2 separate regions of the Homo sapiens genome follow, and region 1 is linked to region 2. Evidence: fine-mapped expression QTL. A gene starts in region 2. The other region holds a variant in brackets. All regions are shown on one strand. Distances are from middle to middle. Region 1 overlaps CLIC4 (chloride intracellular channel 4). Region 2 holds the start of IFNLR1 (interferon lambda receptor 1).

Region 1 (5,524 bases), 620 kb after region 2:
TAAAAAATATTTTTGATCCTCAGTTGGTTGAATCCACAGATGCTGAACCCATGAATAAGGAGGGCTGACTTATTTCATTTTGTGAAAAACTTGAGCTTGTCAGACTAAAGAATGTTCAGTGAAAGCATCAGAGTTGAAAATCAAATCAGGTTTTGACTTTTAAAAGTCCTCTTTTGGAGGTTAGGTTCTTACAGAAGTTGATAGGAAATATGTCTTATTTTTCTTTGTTTAGGAAGCAAGATAGGCTCTAGAACTTGGACTTTGAGTTAAAAATTTTAAATTAATGAGATAATTAAATAAATCTTTGTTTCTTTGGTTGGAATGTAGTCATAGAAACCTGAGGCTTTCTAACCTAAATTGAAAGATGGAGCCAGAGAGAGAATATGAATAAGACCAAGGGAAATTGATAGATTATAAACTGGTTATAGATTTTTGATTCCCCTCTATCTTGAAAATTCTGATGACGAAGTATTTCACTTTCATGATATATTTAAAAATACTATTTTTGGAGACAGAGTCTCACTCTGTCGCCCAGGCTGAAGTGCAGTGGTGCAATCTCAGCTCACTGTAACCTCCGCCTTCCAGCAATTCTGCCTCAGCCTCCCGAGTAGCTGGGACTATAGGCATGCACTACTACACCCAGCTAATTTTTATATTTTTAGTAGAGATGGGGTTTCATCATGTTGCCCAGGTTGGTCTCAAACTCCTGACCTCAGGTGATCCACCCGCTTCGGCCTCACAAAGTGCTGGGATTACAAGCATGAGCCACCATGCCCAGCCAATATTCTTTATTTTATTCAAATTCTGTGCATTTATGGTCAGGAAGGAAGGAAGAAGGAAGGCAGGCAGGCTAACTTAATAACAAGATAAACAGCTCTGGGCTATAATAGGAGGCAGAAACATTCTTTGAAACTATATGTTGTTGTATTACTTTTCTTGAAGTACACATTTTTATGTTTGCTTTTATAATTATGAAAGTTTTCAAACATGCATAAGAATAGAATAAACTTCTCCGTAAACCCAATTCAGTTATCAAGATCTTGCCACATTTGCTTTGCCCCTTTTTTCTGATTTTCTTTGCTGAAATGTTTTAAAGTAAATGCTAGACATCATGTCGTTTCATCCCTACTTAATTCAGTGTATGTCTTCAAACAATGTGGACATTTTCTTCCCTAACCACAATGCTCTGATCTCCTGAAGTTCCTAGTATACAATTTGGGATTTCCCTGGTTATCTCTAAAATATCTTTTTATTTTTGGTTGGTTTGTTCAAATCAGTATCCAAGTAATTTCTACTTTTTATGTTTGATTGTTATATCTCTTAAGTTTTTCTTAATCTATAACAGTCCCCCACCTGTGTCTGGTAAAAATACCATTCAGCTGAAAGGTAGATTGTCCCAAATCCAGAATTTAGCAGTTGCTTCCTTGTGGTAGCATTTAACTTTGTCCTCTCATTTTCCCCCTCCCTGCATTTCCTGTAAATAATCTCAGGACCCCTTTGTACTCTTAAATTATTGAAGGCCTCAAACAGCTTTCAGTTATGTGGGTTATATCTACCTATTTTACTATATTAGAAATTAAAGTTGAGAAATTAGCCTAGGCAATATGGTGAGATCCTCATCTCTACAAAAAATTTTTTAAAAATTAGCTGGGCTTGATGGAGTGTGCCTCTGGTCCCAGCTGCTTGGGAGGCTGAGGTAGGAGAATTGCTTGAGCCTAGGAAATCAAGGCTGCAGGGAACCATGATTGTGACACTGCACTCCTGCTTTGGTGACTGGTCTCAAAAAAAAAAAATCCTGAGAAATTTTAAAAATGTTTATTTATGGCCGGGTACGGTGGCTCACACCTGTAATCCCAGCACTTTGGGAGGCCGAGGTGGGCGGATCATGAGGTCAGGAGACCATCCTGACTAACATGGTGAAACCCTGTCTCTACTAAAAAATACATCAAAAATTAGCTGGGCTTGGTGTGCGCCTGTAGTCCCAGCTACTTGGGAGGCTGAGGCAGGAGAATGGCGTGAACTTGGGAGATGGAGCTTGTAGTGAGCCGAGATCGCACCACTGCACTTCAGCCTGGGCGACAGAGTGAGACTCTGTCTCAGGAAAAAAAAAAAAAATCATTTACTAATTCATTAAATATAGAACAATAATGAACCCACTACTTATTACCATAAAACATTTTTAATGTAAAACAACTATATTTCCCAAAACAAAAAATAGTGAGAAGAGTGGCATTCTTTTACATTTTTGCACATCTTAGAAGAGGTTTCTCGTGTCTGCTTCTGCATTCATTACCTTGTGATATCTTGTACCAAGTAGCCAAGTAAATTTGGAAAATTTTACTATATGTGCACGAGAGGAGAATGAGAGTGAAAAAGGCAAATGATGCCTTAGTATTATAAGAATAGTTCTGACCTAATGGATCACCTGGTGAAAGGGTCTCCTGGCTTACAATTTGAGAAACAGCTGCCCCAGAGGCTGCTTTGTTTTGGTTTGTTGTTGTTGTTGTTTTGAGACAGGGTCTCACTCTGTTGCCCAGGCTGAAGTGCAGTGATATGATCACTGTTCACTGCAGCCTCGACCGCCTGGGCTCAACCAATCCTCCCATCTCAGCCTCCCAAGTAGCTGGGACTACAGGCACATGCCACCACACCCAGCTAATTAAAAAAAA[T/A]TTTTTTATAGAGATGGGATCTCACTATGTTGCCCAGGCTGGTCTCGCTTGAACTCCTGGACTCAAGCAATCCTCCTGCCTTGGCCTCTCAAAGTGCTAATGTTACAGGTATGAGCCACTGCACCCAGCCTGCCCCAGAGGCTTGATTAGATTCAGGGTCAACTTCTTTGGTAAGAATACTTCATGGTGCCATAGGAAACACACCATATCTGGTCATCTCATTTTTTGATCCTAAAATTCATTGGTGGGTTTGGGTGAGCCATTTTGCTTTTTTAACAAGATAGTACAAACACTTCTTGCTGTTAGTAGTTGTCAGCATAACAGTTTCACCATCTTTATCAGTGTTTTGTGGTGTTTTCAATTTTTCCTAATCAACAGGAGGAAGACATCTTATTGTTTACTTTTAAATTCCCTTTATAGTTGTGCTATTTTACATTTTTCTGTGTGTTCACTTGTTTTATCTGTCTCTCATCAATTTCTTTTGACCCATACCTATTTGATTTTTTTGATGACCTTTGGAATGAATTTGGACAAAATCCTTAGGTAATGTAGATTTTAAGCTTTTCTCACTCAGTACTTTGTCCATTCTTTGTTGCTTTTTACCCTTCATTATGCCATCTTTTATGTATTGAAGTAATTTTGATATTAGATAGTCTAATCTGGTGATCCTTTTCCTTGTCAAGCCTGGACTTCTAGAATAATGGGAAAGAAATAGCACCAGAATTTGGAATCTTTTGAAGTTGAAGATGACTGCAGGATTCAGCTGCTTTTCTCTTTTATTTTGCCAAAAAGAAAAAAAAAGGCCTAGGGAAGTCATGACTTACCCATCTTTACACAATTAGTTGGGGCCAGAGTTGAAACCAGACACTAACTCTCCAAAATCTTTTTTCCCTCCTCATTCTATCACTATCTCTAATGAGTGACTTAGTTAATTTGGAATGAGAATGATGGATTTTGTATTTTGGTTAAAAAAAAAATCAAAGCATTTTCTTACCATAAATTATGTATTTTGTGGAGGCTTGCTTCTTATTAGAATACTATTACAGCTATTATATCTAGTGGAAAAGTACTATTTCTTTCTTTTTTTTGAGACAGAGTATTGCTCTGTCACCAGGCTGGAGTGCAGTGGTGCGATCTTGGCTCACTGTAACCTCCGCCTCCCGGGTTCAAGTGGTTCTCCTTCCTCAGCCTCCCAAGTAGCTGGAACTACAGGTGCATGCCACCATGCCCAGCTAATTTTTATATTTTTAGCAGAGACGGAGTTTCACCATGTTGGCCAGGAGGGTCTCAATCTCTTGACCTCATGATCTGCCCACCTTGGCCTCCCAAAATGCTGGGATTAGAGGCGTGAGCCACCACACCTGGTTGAAAAATACCTTTCTTTCTTTCTTTCTTTCTTTTTTTTTTTTTTTAAGATGGAGTCTTGCTCTGTCGCCCAGGCTGGAGTGCTGTGGTGAGATCTCTGCTGACTGCAGCCTCTGCTTCCGGGATTCAAGCGATTCTCCTGCCTCAGCCTCCTGAGTAGCTGGGATTACAGGCACATGCCACCACGCCCAATTAACTTTTGTATTTTTAGTAGAGATGGGGTTTCACCATGTTGGTCAGGCTGGTCTCAAACTTCTGACCTCGTGATCCTCCTGCCTTGGCCTCCCAAAGTGCTGGGATTACAGCCGTGAGCCACCGTGCCCGGCTGAAAAATACCATTTCTTATTCAGTTTTATATACTTTAAATTTTAGAACCACTTTGATCTCTTTTCTTTTTCTTTTTCTCTTTTTCTTTTTCTTTTCTGACAGGGTTTTACTCTGTCACCTAGGCTGGAGTGCAGTGGTACATTCTCAGCTCACTGCAACCTCCGCCTCCCGGGTTCAAGTGATCCTCCTTCCTCAGCCTCCCAAGTAGCTGGAACTACAGGTGCGCACCACCATGCCCAGCTAATTTTTATATTTTTAGCAGAGATGGGGTTTCACCATGCTGGCCAAGCTGGTCTCAAACTCCTGACCTCAGGTGATCCACCCGCCTCGGCCTCCCAAAGGGCTGGGATTACAGACATGAGCCACCATGCCCGGACAATTTATTTATTTTCTTTTTGAGACAGGGTCTCTCTGTCGCCCAGGCTGGAGTGCAGTGGTGCGATCATGGCTCACTCCAGCCTCAACTTCCCAGGCTCAAGTGATCCTTCCACCTCAGCCTCCCTGGTAGCTGGTACTATAGACACGCACCACCATGCCTGGCTAATTTTTTATGTTTTGTGGAGACAGGATCTTACCATGTTGCCCAGGCTGGGTCTCAAACTCCTGGGCTAAGCAGTGTCCCACCTCAGCCTCCTGTAGTGCTACGACTACAGACGCAAGCCACCGTGCCTGGCCAACTTTGAGAATTTAAAGTATTATTGTTGTTTAAGAGTAAAAAATGATCTGATTTTGACCAATATTTTGCCCAACAGGAAGCCAGCAGACCTGCAGAACTTGGCTCCCGGGACCCACCCACCATTTATAACTTTCAACAGTGAAGTCAAAACGGATGTAAATAAGATTGAGGAATTTCTTGAAGAAGTCTTATGCCCTCCCAAGTGAGTATCAAGGAAAATACGTATGAAAATATTGTCACTTCTTTGAAGCTTGTGTTATTTGTCAGTAGAGATCTTTCTCGCAGCATTAATTTGGAATGACTAGGACTCTCTTCTATGTTTCTTATAATTAATGCTACACAGATATAAGAATTGGCTTCCAGCTAGGCCAATCAGCCATACTAAGAAAGGTGGGGATTTGTCTAAGCTGTAGAATATGTGGTAGAAACAGATTTGGGATGTGTCTGATAGGTCAGGAAAGACTGGTTATTTGTGGACTGTAGGTCT
Region 2 (5,000 bases):
TTCATTATAATAATTATAATCGTTACAGATGGGAAAACCAAGGCCCTCTCAGCTATTAAGTTGTAGAATCAGATTCAGTCCAGGCCTAGCCAACTCCAAAGTCCGAGCTCTTGACTGTACTTTGTCTTCTAGGTTCTCATGGGGTCTATTGAGCTTTATGATTCCAACTATTCCATCTATTGACCACTACGAGTCAAACAAGATCTGTTGACCACGGTGTGCCAGGGGTTTCAAAGAAGAACACAACTTCATTCCTGCCCTATAGGAGCTCATGGTCCCATGGAGAATTCAGGGTCCTGAAGTGTCCCATGTGCCATGATGGAAATCCATACGGGTTGCAAAATGGCATCAGGGAGGGAGGGTCCAGTTCTGTGGATGGCTGTCCCCAGCCTCGGCTGCCTACCCATCACCTTCTAGACCCAAAAGTGGGTGCCTGCTTCCACCTCATCCTGTGTCCTCTAGCTGGGACTGTATCACCACGAGGCTAGTGCTATTACTACTCCCAGCTTCTGGACTTCCTAACGGGTGACCAGCAGGAGACCAGGCTGTCTGCAAGCCACTTGTAAGGTATCCTATGGGCAGGACAGTCCCCAGATTCGAGCTAGGTCACATGAGAAAAACAGCAGTTAGAGCAACTTTCCTCTATGAAGCCTTCAAAGGATGCCAGGCACTAGTTTGGCTCTTTACATGTAAAACCTCAATCACCCTTGGGACAGACCACCCTATGGGGTAGGTGTCATTCATTCTGCTTCCATGGAAAGGGCGCTAGGCTCAGAGACAGATGCTAACTAACTTGCCTGAGGCTACACAGTCAGTTTGTGTGGGAGCCAGTATTTGAACTTAGATCTGGCTGTACTTACTCCTAAATCATCACACCATAGTTAGTGTTGTGTATATTAAATACTTATCAGGTGAAAGTACAAGAAGGTCTGGGTTTGACAGTGAAAGGGGAACAGAAGACCCCACCCTCCCTCCACACACAGGTACACGGTCCCTCATCAGCCACAGAGAACGCTGCTGTGGGCACTGGGGGCTGGAGCATCCCTGGCTGGCCTAGTGACCCAGTGGATGGACAGCCTGTCCCACGTGCCTACCCTGGAGGCAAAAGCTAGCCAGGCTTGCTTTAGCCCCTCTTCTCTCTTCTGTGTGCCTCACCTCTGCCATCCTTCTTGAGGAATTCCCTGAATTGCTCTGAGCCTCAGTTTTCCCATCGGAAAAGTAAAAATAATATCTACCTCCGAGGATGGCTGGGTCGTGAGGCTTCCAGAATAATGCGGTGCCTGGCACAAAGAAGTTGCTGAATAAATATAGGCTTTTATGATGATTGGATTATGCCCAGGGACCTTTACAGCTCTTTAAACTGTGAGTCCAAGACTAGGAAAATATCCTGGGGGCGATTTCTGGACCTTCTCTTCCCTGCTTCGGTTGGAGTCGTGGGCGGTGAGGTTTGGTGGTTGGGTCCTACGGCGAGGAATTTTGTACCTGACACCTTACTCATCAGTAGAGGTGGGAAAACAACAACAACAACAACAACAACAAAACAACAACAAAACAACAACCACCACCAAAAGAAAGCCGTCTTGTTAGAAAGCAGGGCACAGGCGACCAGAGCTCCGTCCCACCAGAGGCCTGGCAGGAACGGGAAGGGACATCAATCGGTCCCACTTTCCCTGCTGTCCACACTTTAGGGTCAAGTGTGGTTTTCACGCAGGGATCAGTGCTTTCTTTAGGAAACATTAAAAAGCACTTTATTAAAAAATATGCAGTATCAAACTGCCGCTGTCTTTTTTCTCCAGTTCTCCTGAAGCTGGAAGCATTAGGAAACTGGATTCGTTTCCTGCGGGAGAGGAATATCAAAGACCCGGTTCTGTTCAGTCCTGGGAAGAAGCAAACTGGGGGCGCGTAGGCAGGGCCGATTCGCACCCGGCTCGGGTGGCTGCGGACCCCGTGCCTGTCCCAGGAGCTCCGGGTCCGAGGGTAGGCGCGGCCCGGCCCGGGGAGCCCTCTTCCCCCTCCCTCCCGCGGCCCCGCGCCCTTACCTGGAGCGGCCTGCAGCAGGCACAGGAGCAGGGGGCCCCAGCGCTCGGGCCCCGCCATGGCCTTCCTGCCGCGGCGTCCCCGCCCGGGCCCAGGTCCCCGCCTCCCGCCTCCCGCCTCCCGTCTCCTAGCCCACCGCGGGCAGGTGACGCAGTCGGCAGCCAATGGCCCGCAGAGCCGCGGGCCCGTCCCTGCCGCCTAGGATTCACTGAGAAGGTCCCTGGGGACAGCCCCGCCGCGGGGGGAGGGGGGGGGGGGAGCGCGCCGGTCCCCGCGCTCGAAACTCGCCCGTACCTCTGCTTCATCTGCACTTAGTTTTGTTTTACTCAATTCCCGGAAAAAAAAATCAGTAAATCCGTGCACGGGGGAAGGGCAGGGGAGGGGAAGAAACCGGCTGATGATCAATAACCCACGGCCAGTCCAGTGCTCCAGGACGGGCCATTTTGGCAGGATTAGGGAGAGTTCAAGGCCGGTTTGGCTACGCGGCCTCAATGCCATTGGCGGGATCCGAGCGCGTTTCTGAGCCGGATGCTGAGCTCCGCGCCTTACACACGCGATTCCCTTTAATGCCCCCGGGGATCCCGGCGGATCCGTGCTGCCCTTCTCCACGTACTTCTCTCCCGGGGAGCGGCAGGCCCCAGAGCTTCAGGTGCTTGTTCTGGGGAAAGCTGTCTTTCTGACCCCGAAGGCTGTGGTGTTCACCTGGACAGCAGTAGCTTCCCAGTAAGGCACACGCCACGACGCGCAATATTATGCGGCCCTTTAGGAGGACGTTGCCGAATGGTGTGTATCGACACCGAGGTGTTTGCAACACACTGAGAAACAGAAAAGCGAGTGCTAAAACATAGGCCCATTAAAAAAGTGTGTGTGTAGCCGGGCGCGGTGGCTCACGCCTGTAATCCCAGCACTTTGGGAGGGTGAGGCGGGTGGATCGCCTGAGGTCAGGAGTTGGAGACAAGCCTGGCCAACATGGTGAAACCCCGTCTCTACTAAAAATACAGAAAATCAGCCGGGCGTGGTGGCATTCACCTGTAATCCCAGCTATCAGGGAGGCTGAGGCAGGAGAATCGCTTGAACCCAGGAGGCGGAGGTTGCAGTGAGCCGAGATCGCGCCACTGCACTCCAGCCTGGGCGACAGAGTGAAACTCAGTTTCAAAAAAAAAAAAAAAAGTGTGTGTGTGTGTGTGTGTGTGTGTGTGTGAGTCTGTCTGTATGCATAGAAAGATATTTGGAATAATAATTACCAAAATATTAATGGTTGTTGTCTTTGGGTGATGAGGATTTTCTTTTTCAACTTTCTTCTTTTCTGATCATATTTCGTTTCCAATTTTTTGATAATTATTTGAAACTGGGATCAGCTTTGGTCCCATCAGTTTTTGGAAGAGAAAATGATTTTCACAGAGCTTGGTGGGTCCAAAAGTTGCTCTGAGTTTAACCGCGGGGGAAATTTCTTTTGGAAATTTCAGGATGCTTCTGGGACTAGCATCAAGGCTTCTGCTTAATCAGGATTTTTTTTCTTTTTTTTTTTTTAGACAAAAGCTCTGTCGCCCAGGCTGGAATGCAATAGTGTGATCTTGGCTCACTGCAACCCCGCCTCCTGGGTTCAAGCTATTTTCTCACTTCAGCCTCCCAAGTAGTTGGGATTACAGGCACCTGCCATCATGCTCAGCTAATTTTTGTAGAGATGGGGTTTCACCATGTTGGGCAGGCTGGTCTTGAACTCCTGACCTCAGGTGACCTCAGCCTCCCAAAGTGCTGGGATTACAGGCATGAGCCACTGTGCCTGGCCTTAATTAGGATCTCTTAACAAAGCCCTGCTCACAGAGGACGCAATTCCACCTCAAAGGCGCAGGGTGGAGGAGGATGGAAGAGCAGCAGGCACGGTCAGTGTTGGTATCTTGGGATCTCTGAAATGTTGACTGTTGACTTTCTTTTCTCCTTCCTTCCTTCCTTTCTCTCTCTTTCTTTCTTTCTTTCTTTCTTTCTTTCTTTCTTTCTTTCTTTCTTTCCTTCCTTCCTTCCTTCCTTCCTTCCTTCCTTCCTTCTTTTTTCTCTCTCTTTCCTTCTTTCTTGCTTTCTTATTTTCTTGCTTTCTTTTTTTTTGACAAGAGTCTCACTCTGTCACCCAGGCTGGAGTGCAGTAGCGTGATCATGGTTCACTGCAACCTCTACCTACTGGTTCAAGCGATTCTCATGCCGCAGCCTGCCAAGTAGCTGGGACTACAGGCGTAAGCCACCATGCCCAGCTAATTTGTGTATTTTTAGTAAAGACGGGGTTTCGCCATGTTGGCCAGGCTAATCTCGAACTCCTGGCCTCAAGTGATCTGCCCACCTCGGCCTTCCAAAGTGCTGGGATTATAGGCATGAGCCATGCACCCGGCCCTGAAATGTTGACTTTCATTTCCACCCAGCAACTGCAACTCTTTTAGACCCGGAATCCCACTGTGCTTGGAGCGGTTCAACAGCAGGTACAGAAATATCTTCATTTGCCACCTGCTCCACCCATGGGCTCCTGTGCTATGCATCTGAAACTGGCACTTGCTCTTTTTTGACAATTTGTTTGTCACATGTTTGTTCTCTTGTTCCTCTTCCCCCACCTCCCCGCCCACGCATAGCTTCGAGTTAGAAAATTGTGTGTTCAGATGCCTTGATCCTTCAAGAGACATTTTGTGACTATGAGCTTGGCCAAGTTGGATCTTTCAAAACCTTAAAAAAAATGTCATCTATAGATGCCGGTCAGAAAATCTCAGCCAGTTACCACGACCTTGCTTCTACTTAGGTCCTAAATACACTGCTTCAATTTCTTTCAGGTATCTCAAATACAATCCATCCATTCTGGAATAAAATGAATATATCTCTATTGATATCTCTTTATCCCAAACAGCTGACTGCACGAATCTTTATTGAGTCTTTGTTATATAGTGGCACTGCAGTTTACATACAGTATTTAATCTTCACAACAA

Evidence for each region. PIP is the estimated chance that this variant, and not a neighbour inherited with it, causes the effect.
Region 1: its variant is fine-mapped to the expression of IFNLR1 in testis (GTEx, PIP above 0.99).

What each region holds. Positions count from the first base shown.
Region 1 is chr1:24,808,981-24,814,504 of GRCh38, forward strand. It overlaps CLIC4 (chloride intracellular channel 4), which reads left to right. Exons shown (of 6, transcript NM_013943.3): 3 at 5,114-5,239. Among named protein-coding and RNA genes, the nearest start is that of CLIC4, 66 kb to the left of the region's middle. The variant T/A (reference allele first, on the strand shown) is at 2,670.
Region 2 is chr1:24,185,152-24,190,151 of GRCh38, forward strand. IFNLR1 (interferon lambda receptor 1) reads right to left here and starts at 2,138. Exons shown (of 7, transcript NM_170743.4): 1 at 2,040-2,138. The coding sequence starts at 2,097. RefSeq lists a silencer at 1,911-2,400.